3 separate regions of the Homo sapiens genome follow, and regions 1 and 2 are each reported to be linked to region 3. Evidence: microRNA targets listed by miRTarBase, many of them from high-throughput screens and not tested one by one. Region 3 holds a microRNA gene; each other region holds the end of a gene's coding sequence.
What was found. The annotated mature microRNA hsa-miR-6764-5p reads UCCCAGGGUCUGGUCAGAGUUG and lies in region 3 at 1,274-1,295, opposite strand. An mRNA with a match to its seed (bases 2 to 7 or 8) in the 3' UTR can be bound and repressed. Matches are read on the target gene's strand: a 7mer-m8 pairs with bases 2 to 8, a 7mer-A1 pairs with bases 2 to 7 and ends in A, and an 8mer does both.

Region 1 (4,360 bases), not on the chromosome of region 3:
TAGAATCACAGTATTTAGCCTTTTGCATTTGACTTTTTTGACTCAGTAGTGTAGTCTCTCCATGTTGTTGCATGTATCAGTATGTTCTTTTTTATTGCTGAGTGATATTCCATTATTGTGGATGTTCCACAGTTTGTTTATCCATTCCCCAGTGGACTGATATTTGGGTAGATTTTAGCTATTATGAGTAAAGCAACTATAAACGTTTCCAAATAGATCTTTGTGTAGACGTATGTTTTCATTTCTCTTGGTTAAAAATACCTACAAGTGGGACCTTATTTTAGCTACTATGAGGGAGGTATTCTTTCTACTTATAAAGAAACTACATTTTGGGCAGCATGATAGAGCATGCTTCTAGGAGACATTTCCTTTTTGAGGGAAGTGAGTACTTAAGTTTCTTAGAAGTAATGTACTGTTTTCTGATGGATGGGTGACGGGCTCTAATCAGTTTGTCTAATGAAAGAGTTGAAAAAGAATTGCCCTTTTTTCCTTGCAGTTACAGAGGAAAGCCATGAAGAGCCAGCATTCCAGAATTTTATGCAAGAATCGATGGCACAATACTGGAAGAGAAACAATAAATAGGAGACTTTAGCACACTTCACTTGTTTCTAGAAGTCCAGAATTTTGGACCTCCACGTGAAAGAACTGTTCTTACCTCTGAACTGGGGGCTCCCATAAGGGATAATTTTCCTCAGAGTAGCAAAGTTTCTCTTATTAGAGAAATCTTGTGACTCAGATGAAGTCAGGGATAGAAGACCCTTGGACCTGGCAGGTTAATGCTGATTATTCCTTGGCCTTTCCCTTGTATTTATGCAAGGAAGGATATACTGAGCTGATACTCTTCCAAGCCTACAACTTCAAGTTTTATCATTTGAACTCAAGTACTTTTGCTGCTGAGGAATGGAATCAAAAGAACGTAGTCTCCTGGTGACCACCTCAGATCTCTATTATTAGGCTAGATGTATAGCCTCTACTCCCCCAGCTTCTTGCTCTTGACCCTGCACTGTAAGTTGCCCTTCTATTAGCAGCCAAGGAAAAGGGAAACATGAGCTTATCCAGAACGGTGGCAGAGTCTCCTTGGCAATCAACCAACGTTGCTATGAAATATGCCTCACACTGTATAGCTCATTATAGGACGTCAGGTTTGTTGAAAAAAGTGGGCAAGACATGATTAATGAATCAGAATCCTGTTTCATTGGTGACTTGGATAAAGACTTTTTAATTTTAACTTTGTTCTAAGACTGCTTGTCATGATTTCAAATTAGAAAATTATATAATTGCAAACAGCTTCACTTCTCCTGTTCAACAGAGGCTTAAGGCCAGATGTCCAAACTTGTCTCAATAAGGAGGTGATATTTTACTAAAGTTTCCCACGTGCACATACTGACTAAATACAGAGCTAGGCCCAGTTTGTATTGTACTCTGAACTTAATGCAAAGTCTCCTTGGTGATTTTCGCAAAGTCCGTGGATTTGGGTCAGAGGCACATTTCATACATAACAGCCCTTATAAACGTTTGCCCTGCCTCCACATTTTACAGTATCTTAAAACAGTACATTTCTTTCAAAGAATTTTATCTCTATGAGTCAGTACTCCAACTTAGTGGTTCTCACATTGTGGACCAGGAGCATCAGCATCATCTGGGGAATTGTTCAACTTACCTCTTATAACCTATGAACTCAGAAACCCTGGGGGTGGGCTGAGCAGTCTGTTTTAGAAAGCCCTCCATGTGATTCTGATGCATAGTAGCCTATGACATAATTCCAGACCAGGTGAATCTCAAGATACTAATCCTCACATCATTTGCCTTCTCATATTTCCCTCGTCTTGACCATCTGGTGCCTGTTATGCAGTTTAACATTCTGCAGCAATAAAAGTGTTTTATTATAAAGTATTAATTTTAATGTTCTATACTTAGTGGGAACCACTGGTCTCAAAATTTGAAGCTATTCTTTAAGAGGAGAACATTCGCAAAACTCAAGCATACTTGGTTTTTCTCTGTAGTACTTTTGAATGCTTTATCTTCCTTACAGAATAACTTGTCTTCCTTATGCTTCAAGCTCCAAAAGGGTAAGGAAGAAGTCTTAATCATTTTTGTATTCCTTGCACAGGACCTAGCAAATAATTGGTACTCAATGTTTGCTGGATGAATGAACTAAATTCCCATACGGCCACTTTATGGAAACTAACTGCCTAATCGCCACTTTCATTATAAACAAAGGAAAATGAAGATAAGACTGCAACAGAGGCCAGGTGCAGTGGCTCACGCCTGTAATCCCAGCACTTTGGGAGCCCGAGGCGGGCAGATCACTTGAGGTCAGGAGTTTTGAGACCAGCCTGGCCAACACGGTGAAACCTCATCTCTACTAAAAATGCAAAAATTAGCTGGGTGTGGTGGCATGTGCGTGTAATCCCAGCTACTCAGGTGGCTGAGGCAGGAGAATCGCTTGAACCTGGGAGGCAGAGGTTGCAGTGAGTCGAAATTGCACCATTGCACTCCAGCCTGGGTGACAGAGCAAGACTCCATCTCAAAAATAAATAAATAAATAAATAAATTAAAAAAAAGACTGTGACAGAAAGGGTTTAGAGAAATGTGCTAAAGAGTTACAATTGGCAAATTTAAAATTATATGTTAAACTATAACCTCATTTGTATCATATTCATTTATTCTCAATACCTGGGACATTTAAGGCATTCAATAATGAATTAAAGCTGTGCCTTATTTTGGTCTGCATTAAAGGAGTGGTCTAAATTTTACAAGATATATTTTGCATCAGAAAATCAAACTTCAGCAGTTTAACATGCTGGCATCCATCACCAAGGCATGAAGCAACACATTTGCTAATGATTCCTAATCACTACAGTGCTACATCATTTACTTAATAAATACTGATTCAGTACTTATATATACAGATAGTCTGATGGATGAGTAACCACAGTGATGTTGTTCAGGACATGATGTAAAGTTGAAAGGTGCATATTGCTATGTTTTAAAGGCTGCCTTTACAGTAGAAGCAGCAAAGTGTGCTTAATGGACTGCTGTCCTCTGATGACCAAGCAAATGCAACAAATGAAATATGCACAAGGCTGTCCTTGGACAGTACTTGTTTGCTTTGCTCACAAAGGAGAAAAGGAAAGAAACAATTGAAAATATGTATATGGTGAAAGTATGTGAGTCCGAGCAGAAATAACAAAGGCAAAAGGATGAGGAGAGATGGAGTAAGTCTAGAGAAGAAAATAAATGGATGAGATAGAGAGCTGTCTAAGCAAAAAAGGTGTCAGACCTCTGATCTTATAAATAAGACACTTCAAAAGTAGCAAAAACAGTTTTAAGAAGGTGACTAATAGATAAGGTGTGTTGTGTTTAGCTATTTCCTGTTAGGTATTAGTAATGGGTTCCCAATGACCTGAGCCAAAAATGAATCAAGTTAAATGAAAACTGACATCTGATATGAGCATATATTATTAGTCTATTCAAGCACAGTTTTGAAGTTAGCAAACATCTAAATCCTCACATCTCTACAAGGTAGGTCAAAGTATGATTCTTCTCAGTTGTACAAGATAAATGGCTGTATAACATGTCTAGTCATAGTTAAGACAACAATTGGGGACAGTGCTTTGGTCTGATTGCCATGCCAGCATCATATTTTATCTGTGAAGGGTGGCTTGGTTGTGGAAAACTATAAAAACTGGATGCAAAAGTAAAATGCAACCTTGTTTGGTGACGTCCAGTTCCTCTGGAATTAGGAAAAACCACTTGTGTTTAAGAACAGGAGTCAAATCAATTTTTAAGGAAACAGATTCTAATACAAAAACCTTTTCTGTTGGGTCTAGTAGGTCTGGACAAAACATCTCCCTCTTTTCCTTTTATATTTTCCTCATCCTCTTCTTGCAGCGCTGGTTGAAAACAGGGGAGGACCCCATGAGGCTGTCAGTGGAGTGGGAACCATAGCTGCTATCTGAGTCATCAGGGCTCTGAGGAATCCCAGCTTCACTCATGCCTGACATAGGCTCCTCGAAGACATCACTGCCCAGCACACCATGCCCAGAGACATTGCCTTCTTCACTTTCTTGAGGCTCCATTTTCACATGGGCCAGATTCCAAAGAGGAGAAGCATTTACCTCTGCACCTAGAAACAGAGGAAAGATGGACATACACCAAGTGTATATGTGTAGCCAAGTGTAGAACAAAGAGTAAATATATCACTCAGAACCAACTAATATGCTTTGAGCTCAGTTTTCACTCTGATTCTGTACTTGGCTGGAGAATATGGTTGTTACTCTCTGCTTCAAAAAGTTAACCATCCCAAAAAATTACCAGCTCTGATTATCTTCTTTTCCATTTCTTCTACCTTTCTTTC
Region 2 (4,360 bases), not on the chromosome of region 3:
TTTGGAAAATTGCTTAAAAGTGTAAAAGATTTAATTTTCATATCATGAACTTTCAGAACATATTGAAAAATATTCATGCCCAAATTGTTAAATATCGCGATGTTTACTAATTTAAGTACAAAATTTGTTTATAGTTTCCATTCTTTTATTTTTGTTTTGTAAGAATTATTTCTTAATTTATCTTCAGAGTTTTTGGACTGGGCATAGTAGCTCACATCTGTAGTCCCAGCACTTTGGGAGGCTGAGGCGGGAGAATTGCTTGAACCCATGAGTTTGAGACCACACTGGGCAATATAGAGAGACCTCATCTCTACCAAAATTTTTTTTAAAAAATTAGCTGGGCATGGTGGTATATGCTTGTAGTCCCAACTACTGGGGAGACTGAGGTGGGAGGATCACTTGAGCCCAGGAGGTTGAGGCTGCTGTGAGCTGTGATTGCATCATCGTATTCTTAGCCTGGGTGAGGGTGAGACCTTGTCTAAAACAAGACAAAACTAAAAAGAATTTTAGAAGAGATATAGAAACAGCTGACATTGTTCTAAGAAACTACTAGCACAGTGCAAAAGAAATATGCTTTCATTCCATTTTTTTCTTCTGTATTCACTCTTTCTTTTTTGCTAGGTGGCATGCATGCAGTGGTTTCATGGAGACCATACAATGCTTGAGATGATTGAGAAAAAGCGTTGCTTGTGCAAGGAAATAAAGGCTAGACAGAAAACGGAAAAGGGCCTTTGCAAACAGGATAGCATGCCTATCTTGCCCAGCTGGAAGAAGAATGCAGGTGCCAAGAAGTACAGCCCTCCACCGTATTCTAAACAGCAAACGGTATTCTGGGATACTGCCATATGAGTGTGTGCAGGATGGTGTGAGCTCTACATTTCTTAATATGAAGAGGGAGGTCGACTCGGTCATATGATAATGAACTGTTACATATCTTTTCTGTGGGAGTGGAATGCCACGGGAAGCTGTGCCTATTCGTGGCAAGTTCAAGATAAAATGCATATGTCCTTGCAATGAAGGCACACTTATTTATCCCGGATTATTTTGAATCCAGAAGATATTAAAATGTAAATATTTTACTAGTTTATGGGTGACATCTGAAATAATACACATTATACGTATATAAATTACAGAAATATCAAGAGTTTACTATATGATATAATTTCAGTATTAACTGGTTTGTTATCTCTTTTATATGTAATCCCTTGATGCCTTTTATTATTAATTTTTGCATTTAAAATGTTTTTTTTCCCTTGCCCACATTTGGTTTCTGTACAAGAGCTCACAACTATAAATCATGTTCAATCACGTAATATATGATCTGGTGCTAGTAACGTAGAAGTTGAATATCATATTTGTTAAGAGCATCTGTGCTTTTTAAGTTTCAAGGGTTTGACAGGAAATGAATGCAAATGTGATGCTTAATTTGGACGTCCAAGTTACATTGACAACAATATTTTTGCTACATTGGCTTTATAAGAATTTCTCTTTAGCATCCTCTGGCAATGGTTAGGCTAACCATTAGTCTGACTTAGTAATAACTAAGCAATGGTTAGTCAGACTCCAGAGAAAGTTACTAGGATATATTGGACATCCCAGCAGAAAACATTTCCTTCAGAAATGACTTTAGGGACATGTGTCCTTGCATCATTGATCTGATTGGAGGAGACCAGGGTTCACTGTGACAATGGAAGGAACAAGGAATTAATAGCTCAAGAGCATGACTGCTTTCAAGAAAGTGGGACCAGTGGCATTGTAGCCACCATAATCACTATATTTAAGTAACTTTTCATGTGTATGCTTGTTTCCCCAAGAAAATGAGAAATAAACATTCAACTAGACCAGTTTACATATTTTAATACACTAAATGCCAATCTTTCTAAAAGTTTAGATCTATTAATAAAATATGTATTTCTTGTTAATTTTTTCAAACTGGTTATCACCACATTTCTGGGTCATAATCTTCTGTATGTGATCATCACACCCATTCTTACTGATTATGACACCATGACCAAAGAATTATGATCATGTTTCATTTCATTTTGTTTCAAGAAAGAGACAGGAAATGCAGGGGATGAGGGATGGGGTGGATTCAATTTTATGTAGTGGTGAAATTTAAGTTAAAAAAATCATATATATCTTTTAAGAAGAACTTGTTAGTTGAATATAAATATTGCCACGAATGAATAAAAAAGAAACTATCGCATATATTTTGTATATTTAAATTACTATTTATGCCTCCTAAAATTGATAGTATGTGGTTCTTTGTTAACAATCAATTTAGTATTATATTTCTGAGAGAAAAGATGTGTTTTTGAAGTTATTGTTATAGCAGTTTTTCTTGTAAGGGTATTGACAGCAATAGTTCAGTGCTGCTCAATAAAACCAAATATAACAGGAGTTAGAGAATCTTTGTAATCTATATTGCTACAAACCTAGTAATGCTTTATCAGTAATAGTTTCTTTCAAAAGCCTTTTCAATGTTATAACATGATTTTCTAATGTTTTATAATTAATGTGTATTTTGATGTCCAATTCAAATTCTGAAAAAATAAGGAAAAAGGTAAGTGGGAGCAGTGTATGGTTGGTGTGTCTGTGAGCGTGCGTGCATGTGTGTGTGTGTGAGTGTGTGTGTACATGAACGAATACTCAGTGGGAGAACTGTATACATAAAACGCTTACTGAAGTTGCAGGTTCTGCTTGTATAATTGAGGTGGTAGAAAACCGGGATCACAAATGCAGGAAATTAGGAAGGGATCTTAAGTAGCTTAAATAAAACCCGCCAGCATGTTTCACCAGCTATAGATTATGTTTCAAACCAAATAATCTATGAAGCACAAATCTAAGGGTGATGAAAATGTGTTTAGATAAAATCAGAATGGAAATAAAATGTGTTTATGACCCAAGTTGTTATCCTGATTTAAGTTATTATGACCACATATACTCAAGCCTATCAGTCAGACACAAGATACTAATTCTCAGCATGTCTATGATTACGTATATATTCAGGCTCAGTATGGTGATGATTAACCCTCCCTTAAAATTTATATTTAGGGAACATCTTTCTGTGGGGAGATGCAAGTGTGTTTTTCAGATGCGTATCTTTCCCATATCACTCTGATTTAGGCAGAAAGTTTATTTAATGTTGGCCATTTGTCAAGAAGGAAACAAAAGTACTAAAATGATCTGTGTTGGATTAAACCATTCCTGTTTGTTCTATCAAACTTATGCTAGGGCCAGGTTTCATGCACTCCTTTTTCAAATGCATTATTTTCTGAGGCGGTAACTTGTTTGAAAATTTGACCTTAGGCAACCATTTTCATTTATTTCCGCAAATCTCTACTTAAGTGGAAAGTGACTGAAAGATCTGGAAAAGTGGCTTCACTGAGATTTGACTCAAGAACTGTTATTCTGTGCCTATACGATTGTCCACTGTGGCAATAATCATTCCATGATCAATTTCCTTTTTGTGTAGTGTTTCTCTAAATGGAGAAAAGGAGATCATTAGTATGTAGAGAAAAATAAGCTGACTCTCTGAAAGTAATCAACTGGGATACTTCAATATATTAATTTGGTCAGAATATAGCCTACAGATAGCCAGAACACTATGCCATGATAAAGCTCATATTTCTAGCAGTGCCAAAGAACAAATCATATCATGGCCTGGTTATCAGGTTGAAAGAGCTCATACTTATGAAAAATGGTCCTTTCACAGCAAATTTCATAGAAACAGAATTTTATTGGATGTCACAAGATGCTTTTATATGTGAAACACTCCTTAGCAGAGAAGATATAAATTTCTTTAGAATTGATGAAAAGAAAATATAAAAATCTGCATTTATTTCAATCGCAGAAGCCAGCATCCTCTGAGGTATAAGAGTAGTCTATTACATAAACACCGCTCACATCTCTCCCATGTTTATGCTACTGAAGCAAGCTTGGCGCCAAATGTGATGGATTTATGTAAATGAAGGTTAATACTCACCCATGTAAAATAATTAGAAAAGTAAAACAAAACGTCCGGAGATTTAAATTTGTAGTTTTAAAGTATTATATATTCAAATACATGCCAATTGTCTGGAGACAACTAGATACAACTTTACTTTCCAAAGTAGTGACAAAATTTTCTTTGAATGCTTCTAGAGAATAAAAGAATGTTTTTATTACTACATTTTGTTGGTAGGTCTTGCCTATACATGGAATTTAGTTTGATTCTTTTGAGCAAATCTAGTGACTACGTCAATAAAACTAAAGCCATTGGGTTATTATTTTAACTAATAAAATAAGACATCAACACAATGCACGTACAAATGCAATTTTAATATCACTTCCATGTTAAGACAAGTAGAAAAGAGCTTGT
Region 3 (4,000 bases):
ACATGTAGGAAGTATTAAAATATCCATGCATCGCTTTCATCAATAATCACTGTAATTGAGTGCAAAATAAAGGAAACTTGAGTTGCTTTATTTAGCTTCCAATTTCTGGGAGGCTCAAGAATTATAAGTATTCTGGACAACAAAAGAAAATAAGACTGTGCTTACAGATCTTGTTCTGCCATATTCTTGCTTTAGGATTGCTATTTTATTGTTGCCCTTTCTGTTACATGGGATGTACACATCAGGTGTTAAAAGGTACAATACATTCTACAACTGAGCACCACTTTCTGTAACTGAACAGGCAAAGAAATTACACTGAACATCAGCATCTGGCAGTATTTTTTTGGAAAAAAAAAGTGACTAAAATGGGTTTAAATTGATTAACACTATTAAATCACATCTAATATTTGATACTACATGATTCAATACAGCTATACGATACAATTATACAAAATGTGTTAACATCAAAGAATACAACCAAAATTAAGATAGCAAACAAAACCTATATAACTTTTTTTTTTTTACAGGAAAATACTTTTGAAGTATGCATGTAACTGCCCATTCTTTTAAAGAAAATCTACTGCAAGCAAAGTTATCAACCTCCAGAAAAATCACACGTAGCATTACTAAGCATATCCCCAAAAAAGTGTACAATATGCACACTTGGAAAATACAAAATTAAAAAAATTGTAAGCAACAGGTGAGCTTCATATTTATAAGAATGTGAAAAGAAGTCCCATTTTTAGCACTGTTGTATAAAGAATTGTCTTTTGATGCGAAGTTCATGAATTGTCCTCCTGTTGGGACCACACTTTACAAAAACACTGTGTTTTTGAAACGAGATTACAGAGCAAGATAGAGCATCTTAGCAATGTCATCTTAGTAAAGTTTTTTTTTTTTAATTTTTACTACTTTATCAAAACATGTCCCTTAGGTGTGTAGGATTCATTTTTAAAATTCTTCCTAGAAATAATATACAAAGGAGAGGCATATTTATTCCCAATCACACTTCTGGAAGATGCTTCCCGTGGTCGAGAAGGGTCTTCTCTCTTCTTTTCACTGGTTGTTTTTGGCCTTAGCATGTGTTAAGATGTGAGATTTCAGGTTAGTTGACTGAGCAAACTTCTTATTACAACCATCGAAGGGGCACACATAGGGCCTGTCTCCGGTATGGATTCGCACATGTGTGCGCAAATTGAAGTCCAGTGAAAAGCGTTTCCCACAGCCTTCGAACGTGCACTGTCAAGGAAAGACCAGAGATCAACCCACTCAGCAACTCTGACCAGACCCTGGGAGTCAGGAGCTCACTGCTTTGCTAGAGAACAGCCTATTTATTTTACCAAACACTTTTCATTCCTGCCCTGGGTGAACTTTGTGGATATAGTCTAGAATCAGCAGGCAGGTTGGACAACCCCGAAAACCCAAGGAGAGCCCTCACGAACTGTTTAAAACACTTGGCAAAATGGCAAGTCTTCCTAAATGCAGGCTAGAGTCCTAGTGCTGCTGTAAACATTTCCAACAGTAAAATACAAATGATTAAGGGTTCTGGTGTCAGTTGTCAAAAAAGAACCACGTTAGATTTACTAGCTGCACTGCTAGTTCTTTCACTTATTTATGGGCTAAAGTATTACCTATACTTACACTCTAGAAACTTTATCAGTTAGTAATTATACTATTAACTACCAAAAATAAATTACTTCAATCCTGTAATGAATGAAGTAGAAATTGAGTTTTAGGTATGCTCTTCAATCCTGTTCTCCTCCTGCCATAAAGTGTACTCCATCAACACCAATACATTGCGTACCCAGTACCACAGAGTATAGACAAGGATGTCCAGAGCCCCGGCAACCCTTCTAAGCGACTCCCCAGGAGAAGTTTTGTTTCTCACCAAGGAGTAATAAGACCCTGAGTCTCTGGGCTGGCGCCTCCTGCCTCATCACCACACCACCTACACTTGCAGTGTTCAGACAGGCAAGGCAGTGTGGGGAAGAGAGGGAACTGGCTCTACCTGAAAGGGCTTCTCTCCAGTATGAACCAGTTGGTGTCGTTTTAGTTTTGAACTCTCAACAAAAGCTTTGCCACATTCTGCACAGACGTGGACTCTGGGACCGTGGGTGTGCAGATGTTTTCTCATGGCCGAGTTATCCCTGAACATCTTTGTGCAGCCCTTAAAACAGAGAAAGCAGCTTAGAAGTTCACATTGCAAACTGTTAGAAAGGATTCAACCATTTAACAGCCTTTACTGACATATTAAAACAAAACCACCTCCCCAACCCCCCATTTTAATTTTACTTAGTATTACGGTAGAACATTAATATCATTTAAGACAAAAAGCAGACAGCTGAAAAAGTCATCATTCAATGCAAACCCTAGTTTTACAGATGAGGAAACTGAGGCTTAGAGATGTCTTTAAGTAGACTTGCCCAAGGTCACACTACTAGTAGTAGCCAAACTGGGAATAGAACCCAACACCCTGGCTTCCAGCTCTACCACAGCCACCTCACCCGACTATGTCCCCCAAAATGAAGTAACAGAAGCACTGCTAAGCAAATGGAGTTAAAATGACGGTAGTCCACCACTACCTTTGGTGGCCCCATATTCTGTGCTGCAACAATGGACTGTCATTCTCCATCGCCTACTGTTCCCTCTTCTCTCTTTGCCTCTTTCCCCTTCTTGACAGAGAAAGAAGCAAGAGGGTCTCCAAGGAATGGCAACTACAGAAGAAATTTATTTTGTGAGACACTAGGAAAAGGAAGAAGCAGGCAAATTGATACCAGTGCAGGGCGGGAAAGGCAGATGGATGTGTGGCGCTCGAGAAGCATGTCCTCAACAATTTCTTCTGCAGTTGTTGCCCAGTAATGGAGTGAATGGGGAAATGATAAGACAGCATGACAGAAGGACAGCACAAGTCACTAGACAGCTCACAGGCAGAAGGGAGAGGGAAGCCCCAGTTTTTCCGCCTTTACCCCTAGGTTGAATTTCCATTTAGAAAATGGAAATTTAAAAAATTTAACTGGTACACAATGTATACATGCATTGAAACATCACACGGTACCCCATAAATATGTACAAGTATTATGTGTCCATTATAAAGAAAACTTCAGAGAAGCTAAAGGGATGGCATAGGCACTTCCAGCCTAACTGTTTTCAAATGCTTGTTATTTCGGCCCTAATGGAGATACGTTTACATTTCAAATCGCCACATCAAGAACGCTGACAAAGAACAGGAAGGACTTGCTAGTGCACAGTCATTACAGGGAAGAGACCGTGAAACTAAATGTAGCCTGCTCCGATTGTTCATTTTTAACATTCTTTATTCCACTCAATCTCTCCTACTTTGTTCTCTGTACCTATGTGATACTTGATTTTTCTGTTAGTCTCATATCCAATTAAGTTTGAAAATAGCCCCCAACAAATATCTCAAAAGTACTTTTCAGGTTATCCTTTTATTTTAAAGACTAACTACATTTGAAAACAATTAAGTGCCTCTCTAATCACACACAATTATTAAGTCTTTATTTGGCTTATTTTAGCAACATCCAAAATAATTTTCAAATTTCAGTTACAAGCCTACATTCCCATAAAGGTCAATAGGTGAGACACAACCCAGGATCTTAAGACGGACTTGTTAATATAATCCAAAAAGAAATGAAACGCTAACAGTAGAGTCAACACACAGTAATCAAGCAACGGCTCCCTGCAGTCATCCCATTTAACAGTATTTAAAAAGTTGCCTTTACTAAATAACAAAACTTCATCTCTTGGATTTAGAAACCGAAGATTCTAATTCCTTGCTTCATTTAAATTATCACAAGCAGAAACAAAAGTGCAAATTTCTTATAACTCTCTAAAACTTCATCAACAGTTTAATGAACACTCTCCCTCTAGCATTACTTACTTTATGAGGGCAAGCTATTGTTCTTGGAGCATCATCTTCTTTAATTTTTCTTGGCTTCATTCTTATCAAAAGAAAAAGAGAGACAGACAGATTTGTAGGAGT

Region 1: miRTarBase lists GPN1 as a target of hsa-miR-6764-5p. Seed matches in the 3' UTR shown: 7mer-m8 at 1,686-1,692.
Region 2: miRTarBase lists NYAP2 as a target of hsa-miR-6764-5p. The part of its 3' UTR that is shown has no 7-base or 8-base seed match.

The regions. Positions count from the first base shown.
Region 1 is chr2:27,649,619-27,653,978 of GRCh38, forward strand. It overlaps GPN1 (GPN-loop GTPase 1), which reads left to right. Exons shown (of 14, transcript NM_007266.4): 14 at 497-1,893. The coding sequence ends at 582. SUPT7L (SPT7 like, STAGA complex subunit gamma) reads right to left here. Exons shown (of 6, transcript NM_014860.3): 6 at 1,191-4,129. The coding sequence ends at 3,867. Among named protein-coding and RNA genes, the nearest start is that of SUPT7L, 12 kb to the right of the region's middle. RefSeq lists an enhancer at 2,989-4,188.
Region 2 is chr2:225,697,696-225,702,055 of GRCh38, forward strand. It overlaps NYAP2 (neuronal tyrosine-phosphorylated phosphoinositide-3-kinase adaptor 2), which reads left to right. Exons shown (of 8, transcript NM_001371273.1): 8 at 622-4,360. The coding sequence ends at 849. The region is part of intron 5 of LOC105373914 (a long non-coding RNA gene); the gene reads right to left. Among named protein-coding and RNA genes, the nearest start is that of NYAP2, 300 kb to the left of the region's middle.
Region 3 is chr14:100,274,657-100,278,656 of GRCh38, reverse strand. MIR6764 (microRNA 6764) reads right to left here and starts at 1,300; the gene lies at 1,240-1,300. It overlaps YY1 (YY1 transcription factor), which reads right to left. Exons shown (of 5, transcript NM_003403.5): 3 at 3,899-3,959; 4 at 2,009-2,167; 5 at 1-1,239. The coding sequence ends at 1,057. It also overlaps a transcript of SLC25A29 not described here. RefSeq lists an enhancer at 1-324.